Homo sapiens: one gene and its partners. The protein of the gene in region 1 interacts with the protein of each later gene in a pairwise test. Each region holds a gene or a part of one and is shown on either strand. Other genes may lie near its edges.

Evidence for each region.
Region 2: the proteins of CYB561D1 (region 1) and CFTR interact in binary tests that used the Homo sapiens proteins (3 or more experiments, as listed by UniProt).
Region 3: the proteins of CYB561D1 (region 1) and GAD2 interact in binary tests that used the Homo sapiens proteins (3 or more experiments, as listed by UniProt).

What each region holds. Positions count from the first base shown.
Region 1 is NC_000001.11:109,492,626-109,496,919, forward strand, and holds the start of CYB561D1 (probable transmembrane reductase CYB561D1), read left to right. Parts: upstream 1-1,468; 5' UTR 1,469-1,514; coding exon 1,515-1,662; intron 1,663-1,894; coding exon of another isoform or gene 1,895-1,998; intron 1,999-2,517; coding exon 2,518-2,555; intron 2,556-3,053; coding exon of another isoform or gene 3,054-3,130; coding exon 3,131-3,634; 3' UTR 3,635-4,294. UniProt on the Homo sapiens protein: Probable transmembrane reductase that may use ascorbate as an electron donor and transfer electrons across membranes to reduce monodehydro-L-ascorbate radical and iron cations Fe(3+) in another cellular compartment.
Region 2 is NC_000007.14:117,591,521-117,595,171, forward strand, and holds part of CFTR (cystic fibrosis transmembrane conductance regulator), read left to right. Parts: intron 1-413; coding exon 414-1,137; intron 1,138-3,409; coding exon 3,410-3,538; intron 3,539-3,651. UniProt on the Homo sapiens protein: Epithelial ion channel that plays an important role in the regulation of epithelial ion and water transport and fluid homeostasis. Mediates the transport of chloride ions across the cell membrane.
Region 3 is NC_000010.11:26,219,659-26,223,309, forward strand, and holds part of GAD2 (glutamate decarboxylase 2), read left to right. Parts: intron 1-3,651. UniProt on the Homo sapiens protein: Catalyzes the production of GABA.

The DNA of each region.
Region 1 (4,294 bases):
GGAGCCGCCAGCACCTCCTCCCCTCCAGATCCGGGCCCCAGGCTGCTGCCGCTTTTTATAACTTTATATTATTTTTTTTTAAGAAAAAAAGCTCTTTAAAATACCTCAAGACTGTCTCCCTGTTCTGTTGCTGCTATGAAAATATAAAAACAGAAACATAGAAAAGGAAGGAAAAAAAATAACAAAATGAGTGTCCTTACTGTCCCCAGCCCTACCCTGGGAGGCTGAGATGATAGGCAGCCAGACTCCAGCTCCCATAGCTTGCCTGCAAAAGTCTCTTATGCTCATTATTATTATTATTGTCATCTTGTCATTTTCAATAGTGTGAAAAATGTTTGTGTCACTGGGGTAGTCTTTCCAGACAGGATGATGAGGCGTGTGGCTCTGAATGAGTAAGGCTTCCTGAGTCTTGACACCAGAGACGACTATGGTCCCATTGGGAAGAGAAACTCGAGAGGGGGAGCTGCACTTCTGGCTCTTTCTAGGATCCTTGCCCCGAGGGTCTGGGAATTGGCTTGTGACCCTTTTCTGGTCCTTCAGCAACCCTAGGCATCCATCCCTCCCTGAATTATTGCCTGCTTTTCTTCAGCTGTTCCTGCAGCCTCATTTTCTCAGCCACTTAGGGAGCTTGAGCTGGGTTGGTCATTGCTGTTGGGATATTCCTGTTTTCTATTGGACAGCCTTCCTTCCCTGCCTGTGGGTTTGCCTTTAAGGAAGGGGTAGAACCTTTCCCAGGGAGGCCTCCTTGGGTTGAACCACCCCTTTTTTGGAGGCAGGAAGGGAAAAGGCATCATCACTTGCAGAACTGGTGGTGTGGGAGGCCACAGGAGTGTGGGAGGCCTTGGTCCTTCAGGATCACCTGGCTCCTCAGGGCTGAGCAGCTGCTGAGGAGGCGGCAGGGCTGGGAGTGCCCTAGTTTTTCCATTTATCTCGCTGGGGACCACTCCCGTGCAGATGCGAGAGGAGACTTGCATTTCCCTCCTTTGGTCCACCAGGTTCAAGGCACTATATTTTGGCGATGTCCTTTCCTATTCTCCTTGCTCTTAGGCATGGAGGAAGCTTGTTCCCTGAACAAGACAAAATGAGGTGACAGGAGACAGTGCACAGCCAGGGAAATCCAGTACTACTAGAAATCGGCTCCAAACACTTGTTTCACAGTCTTGGTTCAGCGTACCAAGTGTGTGATTTGGGGTTTCACTGAAATCGTTTGCCACAAAAGTAATTTCCACAGGCTGCTTGGGATTTAGGCCCTTGTAGACAGACACACAGATACAAATGAAGGTGGGCTGGGAACTGTTCGGTCCCCTTCTGCCTCCGGGCTCTCGCGGGAGCGGGCCTCTCCGGGGCACTCGCGTTTCCCCCCCAGCCCCCAGAGGGCGCTGTGGGCCACTCCGCCGCACTGCCGGCGGCGTCCCCGGGGAGGAGCCTCTCCTGCAGCCGCCACCGCCTCCGCGATCGCAAACCCGGAAGACGTGTTCGGGCAGCTGGAGTGTACGGGCCCGCGGGCCACGGCCATGCAGCCCCTGGAGGTAGGTCTGGTTCCCGCTCCAGCTGGGGAGCCGAGACTGACCCGCTGGCTGCGGAGAGGCAGTGGGATCTTGGCGCACCTGGTAGCTTTGGGCTTCACCATCTTTCTGACAGCGCTGTCCCGGCCAGGAACCAGTGAGTGTGCGGGGCGGGGTTGCGGAAGGGGGCGGAGTGGAGATGCTGGAGGGGCAGCGCTTGGGAGCCCCGGGAGACTTGGAGGAGGGACCCCAGCAGTAAAGGGGAGACAGAAACAGTGGAGGGATTTTGAGGGCCTGGTGGGGCGGGGCCCCAGGGATCCTGGAATAATGGGGTTTTGGGTGCTGTGGGGGAAGGGCAGACGATTGAACAGACCGAACTACTTCCTCAGAAACAGGTCCCCTGATGGAGGATAGAAGTGAAGGAGGCCGGGCGCGGTGGGTCATGCCTGAAATCCCAGCACTTTGGGAGGCCGACGCGGGTGGATCACTTGAGGTCAGGAGTTCGAGACCAGCCTGGCCAACATGGTGAAACCCCGTCTCTACTAAGAATACAAAAATTAGCCAGGCGTGATGGCGCGCGCCTGTAGTTCCAGCTACTTGGGAGGCTGAGGGAGGAGAATCGCTTGAACCCGGGAGGTGGAGGCTGCAGTGAGCCGAGATTGCACCACTGCACTCCACCCTGTGCGACAGAGCGAGACTCCGTATCAAAAAAAAAACAAAAAACAACAACCAAAAAAAACAAAAAACAAAAAAGGGGCAGAGGACTGGGCTGCCAGCTGAGAGGTGCTGAACGGGGAACCCGGGCCAAACTGTTGTATGTGTGTGGATAAGGAGGCCCTCTTGGTTGCTCACCCTGGGGCTCCTTGGCTGCTCCACTTTGTCCTTAGTTCCTGTGCCCGATTAGGATTGGGGATGGTACTTTTCTCCTGTGGCTAGATTCTTTGGGTTCCACCTAGCTACAGGGGCAGGAACAATGGTACCAAGCCCTCAGCCTGTTCTCTTTGATTCTTAGGTCTTTTCTCCTGGCACCCTGTATTCATGGCCTTGGCGGTGAGTTTAGGCTTCTATCTGATTTGTTTGGGTATTCCTCACCTCATTCTCCCAGGGAAGCACCCAGCTTTCAGAAAGCTCAGCCTTTCTAAGGCTAAGACAGGTGGAGGAAACATCTAGGGCTCATCTTTCCCTGCAGCCTATGGGATTGGGAAACCTGGAGGGCTGGGCCATAGGCAGTTGTCAGATGGTTGAAAAGGGCGGGAGGGCATGGAAGATAATTTCTTTCTCCATTGGGGCCGGAAAGGAGAAGGGGGGAGAGGTGTTATCCGGTCATCTCCCGACTTGTCCCCAAAGTTCAGGAAGAAGTTTAACATTTGCTACTCCACTGGTCAAGAAATGGGAGTCATTGTAGAGGTTGGGATGGGGAGATGTCAACCTGAATGAGGAGACGTGCACTCAAGTGCTGATTCCCAAATGTTCCCAGAAATGTTGAGCTGTGAGGCTGGTGGTCCTGGTTGAACTTATTTAACCCTTACCCTTTGTCCTCTTTGTTAGGATGTATGAGAGCACCTCCTTTTTCTCAGGCCTCCAAGCCAGACATGAGGCTTACTGGCTCTCTCCTATGTTCACAGTTCTGCCTCTGCATGGCTGAAGCCATCCTACTCTTCTCACCTGAACACTCCCTGTTCTTCTTCTGCTCCCGAAAAGCACGGATCCGGCTCCACTGGGCAGGGCAGACCCTAGCCATCCTCTGTGCAGCTCTGGGCCTGGGCTTCATCATCTCCAGCAGGACCCGCAGTGAGCTGCCTCATCTGGTGTCCTGGCACAGCTGGGTGGGAGCCCTGACACTGCTGGCCACTGCTGTCCAGGCACTGTGTGGGCTCTGCCTCCTTTGTCCCCGGGCAGCCAGGGTCTCAAGGGTGGCTCGCCTCAAGCTCTACCATCTGACATGTGGACTGGTGGTCTACCTGATGGCTACAGTAACGGTGCTTCTGGGCATGTACTCAGTATGGTTCCAGGCCCAGATCAAAGGTGCGGCCTGGTACCTGTGCCTGGCACTGCCCGTCTATCCAGCCCTGGTGATCATGCACCAGATTTCCAGATCCTACTTGCCGAGGAAGAAAATGGAAATGTGAGTTCCTGCGAACGCTGAATCTAGGTGGGACGCTTGCCTTGAACATCATGGTTCCTTTGGTGATCTATAAGGGATCTATTTAAGAAGTGGTCAGGTTTTCGCACTTCTTGGCTGGTCCAGGGACTGCAGAAACCAAAGCTGCTATTGTTGAGGAATAATTCAGTGGGTCAAAATGGGGAGATGTACTGGGTATGAGTGGAAGGTGATGGAGAGCCTGATCCTGAAGCCTCTACTTGATGAGAGACAGAGTTTTGGGTGGTGATAGTGATGTGCTGGTGGTCATTTCTTGCTTGTGTGCCTGATGAAAAACTGGGTTCCTGTAAGTTATGAATGGCATCCAGGGATATTTGGGTTACTTTTAAGAAAGCAGTGTGATGTAGTGGAGAGAGCCCATGGGTCTTATTTATGGGATATGGTCCTCTTAGGCTCTGTTGTACAACCTTAGGTACATTCCATATCTTAAGACCACTGTTTCTTCATCTGTGAAATGTTTCTAAACAATCTCTAAGTCCCTTCCTTCTCTAATATACAGCGTCTGTCAGGTCGATGTCTCAGAACACTCTCCCAGCTGTGGACCACGTGGACCACTTAGCAGACTCAGGGGGTAGTTCTTTACTCTCCCTTTACTACCCTGGAGGGACAGCTCTGCCCTTGAGGCCCT
Region 2 (3,651 bases), on another chromosome or scaffold:
TAATAGAAAATTTAAAGAGCAACAAAGCTCTGACATTTAAAAGAAATGAAGTACAAATCTCTAGGGACCTTAAAGATCATCTAATAATTTCCTCATTTTCTAGATAAATAAACTGAGAGACCCCGAGGATAAATGATTTGCTCAAAGTCAAATATCTACTTAATATAGGAAATTTAATTTCATTCTCAGTCTGTTAACATGCAACTTTTCAATATAGCATGTTATTTCATGCTATCAGAATTCACAAGGTACCAATTTAATTACTACAGAGTACTTATAGAATCATTTAAAATATAATAAAATTGTATGATAGAGATTATATGCAATAAAACATTAACAAAATGCTAAAATACGAGACATATTGCAATAAAGTATTTATAAAATTGATATTTATATGTTTTTATATCTTAAAGCTGTGTCTGTAAACTGATGGCTAACAAAACTAGGATTTTGGTCACTTCTAAAATGGAACATTTAAAGAAAGCTGACAAAATATTAATTTTGCATGAAGGTAGCAGCTATTTTTATGGGACATTTTCAGAACTCCAAAATCTACAGCCAGACTTTAGCTCAAAACTCATGGGATGTGATTCTTTCGACCAATTTAGTGCAGAAAGAAGAAATTCAATCCTAACTGAGACCTTACACCGTTTCTCATTAGAAGGAGATGCTCCTGTCTCCTGGACAGAAACAAAAAAACAATCTTTTAAACAGACTGGAGAGTTTGGGGAAAAAAGGAAGAATTCTATTCTCAATCCAATCAACTCTATACGAAAATTTTCCATTGTGCAAAAGACTCCCTTACAAATGAATGGCATCGAAGAGGATTCTGATGAGCCTTTAGAGAGAAGGCTGTCCTTAGTACCAGATTCTGAGCAGGGAGAGGCGATACTGCCTCGCATCAGCGTGATCAGCACTGGCCCCACGCTTCAGGCACGAAGGAGGCAGTCTGTCCTGAACCTGATGACACACTCAGTTAACCAAGGTCAGAACATTCACCGAAAGACAACAGCATCCACACGAAAAGTGTCACTGGCCCCTCAGGCAAACTTGACTGAACTGGATATATATTCAAGAAGGTTATCTCAAGAAACTGGCTTGGAAATAAGTGAAGAAATTAACGAAGAAGACTTAAAGGTAGGTATACATCGCTTGGGGGTATTTCACCCCACAGAATGCAATTGAGTAGAATGCAATATGTAGCATGTAACAAAATTTACTAAAATCATAGGATTAGGATAAGGTGTATCTTAAAACTCAGAAAGTATGAAGTTCATTAATTATACAAGCAACGTTAAAATGTAAAATAACAAATGATTTCTTTTTGCAATGGACATATCTCTTCCCATAAAATGGGAAAGGATTTAGTTTTTGGTCCTCTACTAAGCCAGTGATAACTGTGACTATAAGTTAGAAAGCATTTGCTTTATTACCATCTTGAACCCTCTGTGGGAAGAGGTGCAGTATAAATAACTGTATAAATAAATAGTAGCTTTCATTATTTATAGCTCGCAAAATAATCTGTATGGAAGTAGCATATATAAGGTATATAAACATTTAGCCTCTTGATAGGACTAACTCACATTCTGGTTTGTATATCAGTCTTGCCTGAATTTAGCTAGTGTGGGCTTTTTTTTATCTTGTGAGTTTGCTTTATACATTGGGTTTCTGAAAAGATTTCTTTTAGAGAATGTATATAAGCTTAACATGTACTAGTGCCAATCTTCAGACAGAAATTTTGTTCTATTAGGTTTTAAGAATAAAAGCATTTTATTTTTAAAACAGGAAATAATATAAAAAGGAGAGTTTTTGTTGTTTTAGTAGAAAACTTAATGCCTTGGATGAAATGAGCCATGGGCAGGGTTGTAATGAATTGATATGTTTAATAGTATAGATCATTTGTGAATAATATGACCTTTGACAAGACACAAGCCATTAACATCTGTAGGCAGAAGTTTCCTTCTTTGTAAAATGAGGGAATAAAATAGATCCCTAAAGTGTGTAATTTTAGTATTTCTAAACTTTATGAAGGTTTCCTAAATGATAATTCATCTATATAGTGTTTTTTTGTGTGTTTGTTTGTTTGTTTGTTTGAGATGGAGTCTCGCTCTGTCACCTAGGCTGGAGTGCAATGGTGCAACCTCGGCTCACTGCAACCTCTGCCTCCTGGGTTCAAGCTAATCTCCTGCCTCAGCCTCCTGAGTAGCTGAGATTACAGGCATGCACCACCATGCCGAGCTAATTTTTGTATTTTTAGTAGAGAAGGGGTTTCATCATGTTGACCAGGCTGGTCTTGAACTCCTGACCTTGTGATCCACCCACCTCAGCCTCCCAAAGTGCTGGTATTACAGGCGTGTGCCACCACGTCCAGCCTGAGCCACTGCGCCCAGCCCATCTATATAGTTTAATATCAATCTAAATGAATTTCTCAGTCCTGAGCCTAAAAATTTAGTTGTAAAGAATGATATCCTTGACTAATAATAGTTTCTATTAATGGATTGCATCTAGTGCTAGGTGGCATATATTTAGTCCCCACAACTACCCTGGAAGGTATTTAAAATTTTTCACATTTGCAGATAAGGAAACTAAAGTTCAGAGTTCGGCAACATGCTTGAATTCAAGCAGCTCCTAGGATGTTAATGGTGGAGGTTGGGTTCAAATCCAGATCTGTCTGACTCAAAAAATGCATACTCCTAACCAGTGCACTATATCCCAATTCCATAGGAGCCCTTCTTTGTGATTCATAGCACTTTCCCATGAGTTTTGTTGATTTTGTGAGAAACAAAACTCTTTTTCCTTTGGACTGTCTGGAATCTCTCTTTTTCAAATTTTTGAAATGTATTTCTATGCCAAAAGACAAAGATTTCTAGAGGAATATGCCTAGGATGAGAATTATGTAATTTAAATCACAGCTGGAAAGAGAGAAAGTCCTAAGTTACTAAGAAATGTTCAAACACAAATGAGCTTTCAGTCTATTGGAAGACCTTTATAGCTAGAAGTATACTGAACTGTACTTGTCCATGGACCCCTGAAGAAACAGGTTAAATCAAAGAGAGTTCTGGGAAACTTCATTTAGATGGTATCATTCATTTGATAAAAGGTATGCCACTGTTAAGCCTTTAATGGTAAAATTGTCCAATAATAATACAGTTATATAATCAGTGATACATTTTTAGAATTTTGAAAAATTACGATGTTTCTCATTTTTAATAAAGCTGTGTTGCTCCAGTAGACATTATTCTGGCTATAGAATGACATCATACATGGCATTTATAATGATTTATATTTGTTAAAATACACTTAGATTCAAGTAATACTATTCTTTTATTTTCATATATTAAAAATAAAACCACAATGGTGGCATGAAACTGTACTGTCTTATTGTAATAGCCATAATTCTTTTATTCAGGAGTGCTTTTTTGATGATATGGAGAGCATACCAGCAGTGACTACATGGAACACATACCTTCGATATATTACTGTCCACAAGAGCTTAATTTTTGTGCTAATTTGGTGCTTAGTAATTTTTCTGGCAGAGGTAAGAATGTTCTATTGTAAAGTATTACTGGATTTAAAGTTAAATTAAGATAGTTTGGGGATGTATACATATATATGCACACACATAAATATGTATATATACACATGTATACA
Region 3 (3,651 bases), on another chromosome or scaffold:
AGCCCGAATACCAGTGCTGTGCTGGTATTTTCTTTGGCATAAAACTGATCAGAAACAGGACTCACCACCCTATTAATCATTGAGTGGGAGGGATGTTTTCACATTGTGTCAAATGGCCAACCTTTCAGATTTGAATTCAGATTTTCACTTATTTTTAAGGAAATGTGCACAACACACAAGCAGGCATGATACAGACTAGCTTAGCAATTCAGCCATGTTATATAAGGATGTGTGTTCCTCCCAGCCACTGTATATGTGAGATAAAGAAAAAGGGGGGGAGGGGCAAATCAGATATCCTTAGGGGGAAATTTTTTTAAATGTACTTTTGTGGTCTCTTGGCTTTTCACAGGAGTCTTTATATTCCATCCATATTACAGCTTCATTTATAACATTTATTTGGGTGCATTCCGAGCTTTCATGTTATCTACACAAAGTCAGCCATTCATCTGCCCAGGTCTTGATTACCCTCGCTTTTTACGTTGTCTCTAATCATCCTGATACACGATGGCTGACACTTCATTACGGCAATAAAAATAAGTATGAATGAATTTCCAGGGGTGGGGAGGACTTTGTGGATCGAAGTTGATGTGTAGCCTTTAAAAGATTTGCTAGCAAATAAAAAATGTGAAATATGACATGAACATTCATCACCATAGAAACGTCATCTTTTTAGATTGCAAACATTTTGCTGATGAATTAGCAGTATTACGCTAATCAATAACAAACATTCTTAAAATGTTTGCTGTGAGAAGTTTAGTTCTTTTTTTCTTTTTGTTCACATTATTTGTACCAACAGAGAAGAAAGGTAGGCATACAAAAAGCCTTGGGACATAGATTTCTATCAAAGTCAGGCTATGGAATAGGAGTTTTGAAGGTGTATTAGACATCATCCTCAATTAACGTTCATGAAGAACCCACGTGATGTTTATACCAGGCATTAAAAATTTTCCTACCCCTCCTCAGCTTTTCCTGCATTCATAGTGCAATCCTGGGTGATGCTTTTAATTCATTTTTTGACCCATTCCCCATACCTTATATTTAGATACGTTAATAGTAAATTGCCACCTATTGTTTGTATTGCTACCAAACCAAAAAGAACCTATGGAAATGTTTTGTGTCTTCATCCTTGAAAGCTAGTGGTGCCTGAAATGCAGTCTACAGAGTTAAGATAATGGGAACTGCAAGTCAATGAAAGTAATAGTTCTGTCTATCAACGTTGCATTTAGTGCCAGGAAAAGATGGGCTAATTCAATACTTACATTTTGCCATAATGCTTATGAAACTGTTAGGTGTCACTGTAATGCATTTTATTTAAAGTTCAGATAAAAATGTGATGGATTAAGTTGGATTTCTAAGCAAGGCATATCAATTCAATCTCTCAATAGTTTTCATAACATATTTAGTCTGCTGGCCTTTTCCTTCAAATAGCATTTCAAAAAATTAACAGCAGTCATTTTCTCTATTCAGCTGGCAACTTTATAGATTTCTGTGCTATAACTGTCATACTTGTCATCTAATGCTATTTAGGGTATGTCAAATTAGTTACCATCCTTGCTACTACCAGACATTTTAATACTCCTCAAGAGATTATTTTATAAAATGCATATTATCATCTTGTTTCTACTGAGAGACCTTAACCTGATTTCCACTTGGGCTCCAAGCTTAGAGAGGAGTGAAGGGCAGTGGGAAAATGAAGTCTTCATGGATTGTTAAAATTACCTCTGTAAAAAGAAATGTTGGAACACGGAAAACTGAGCAGAGAATGATAGAATTCCAGAATAATTTGCATTTGCAGAGATCATTAGATTTGGTGCTAGTGGTGGTGGTGCTGGCTGGGGAAGAGTAGGACTTAAATGTGGTCCTGAATCTTTTACCAAACCATCAGACAAAGGGAATTAAGCGTCAGTAGATGAGGCAGCCCTAGTGTGAGTGTTGCCAGGACATAAAGAGCAGTTTGGACCGACTTTTGGCCTCTTCCCAACTGATCATGAGCACAGGGTCAGAGTTGCCTGAGGCTGGTTGTTCGCAGAGTCTGCGCATCCTTCCGGGCTCATTTGCTAGTCTGCAGGGAGCATCCCTGAGTCTGAGCAGCCAGTTCTCACATCTCAAGCTCGCCACCTTCCTGGCTGCATAGGCTGTGTGGCCACCCAATGGCTGACGCAGTGCGCTCTGCTCCCATCACAGGGCCTGGCAGGGTGGCGACAGCAGCAGGAGGCCAAGGGCTGCAGGGACACCTGACCTATGGGGGCAGGTCTCACAATTCCTTGGAGAGAGCCCTGCCTTGATTTGCTGGGCAGCCCTAGGAAGCAGCCTGTAGGGGCCACAGGATGGGAGCAAATGTCACTAGGGGAATATTTCTGCCAGAAATCGAGAGAGCCTGTTGATCTGACCTGTCAAACTATCTCCCTCCCTATTTTCACATCATCATCAGGGAATGAAATTTTTGAGGCAGGAGAGATTCAGGTGAAATGGCAGAGCAAGGTCAAAATATATATAGGGAGGAAGGGAAACCTAGCAATGAAAGCGTCAAACCTGTTTTCACTGTTTACGGAAAGTTATCATCAGGGTGAATTGGCCTTCTGATATCCAGAGGCACAACACACCCCTCACAATCTCTCTCCATCTTATGCACAGGTTTTCATTCCCAAGTTTCCCTAGAGTTAAATACTGTCTAATCATAGACACCACATTCATCCAGAAAATGAATATGAATTATAATCCTTATTAATTTCCTCACTTGAAAAAAAAAGGGTTAGGGAAAGAGAAATGAAGGAGCATCGGGAGGGAGGAAATGGCTGTGATTTCAGCTGCGAGCATAATGAAATGGGGAGTCAATGAGGCAGAGAGGAGTGAAGGGTTGCTCCAGACCTCAGTGGCCACAGCAGCAAAAAAGCCTTCTCACCCTTCGTGGATGGGTAAACTGAGGGGGTCAGCATCAGAGATAGAGGGGTACCACACGAGGCCACAAGGACATAAAACAATGCTGGAGAATGTACAATAGATACACAAGTCCTGATCCCGCTAAAATGGGCTCCCTCCCAGCTTATATCTTTACCCAGTGTCTGTCTGGCCACATGCCTGAGGCTGATAAGAGAGCACTCCAGTGCAGGAGATAAGCTAGCCATTGACTTTTGTCCCTGCTCTTCCCCATTGCCTTCCTTTATCTTGTTTTGCCTGTGCTGGAGATGAGAGACAATCACATCCCAGGCTTCAGACAGATGTCCAGGATGTGGAAGATACCTTTTTATCAGATGCTATTTCCACAATGGCCCATCTTCTAAAATTTTTGCTGCTGTGCAAATCACGGACCTATCGATGACAGGCTTTTGTGGAGCAAGAGGAGAAAACTGAATGCTAATGACATATTTATAATCACATTTTAAATAATAGCCTCAGGAGAGTGTGGATGTCAATCCATTTAGAGAGTTTTAGAGGAATCTAGAAGTTAATTAGATAAGCCTTGCGATGGACTAATCAGTCGATTGAGTATATCTTTCTGTATCTTGTTGATAAAACAGTGATGTTGACTGTATGTGGCCTTATTTTAAATCACAACTATGGAGGAGCGCTGTTGTTTATAATTAACAAAGAAGAATTGACAAGAATTAGCTTTGTCCATGCCATCTTTAGACAATCATCACCTTTTGAATC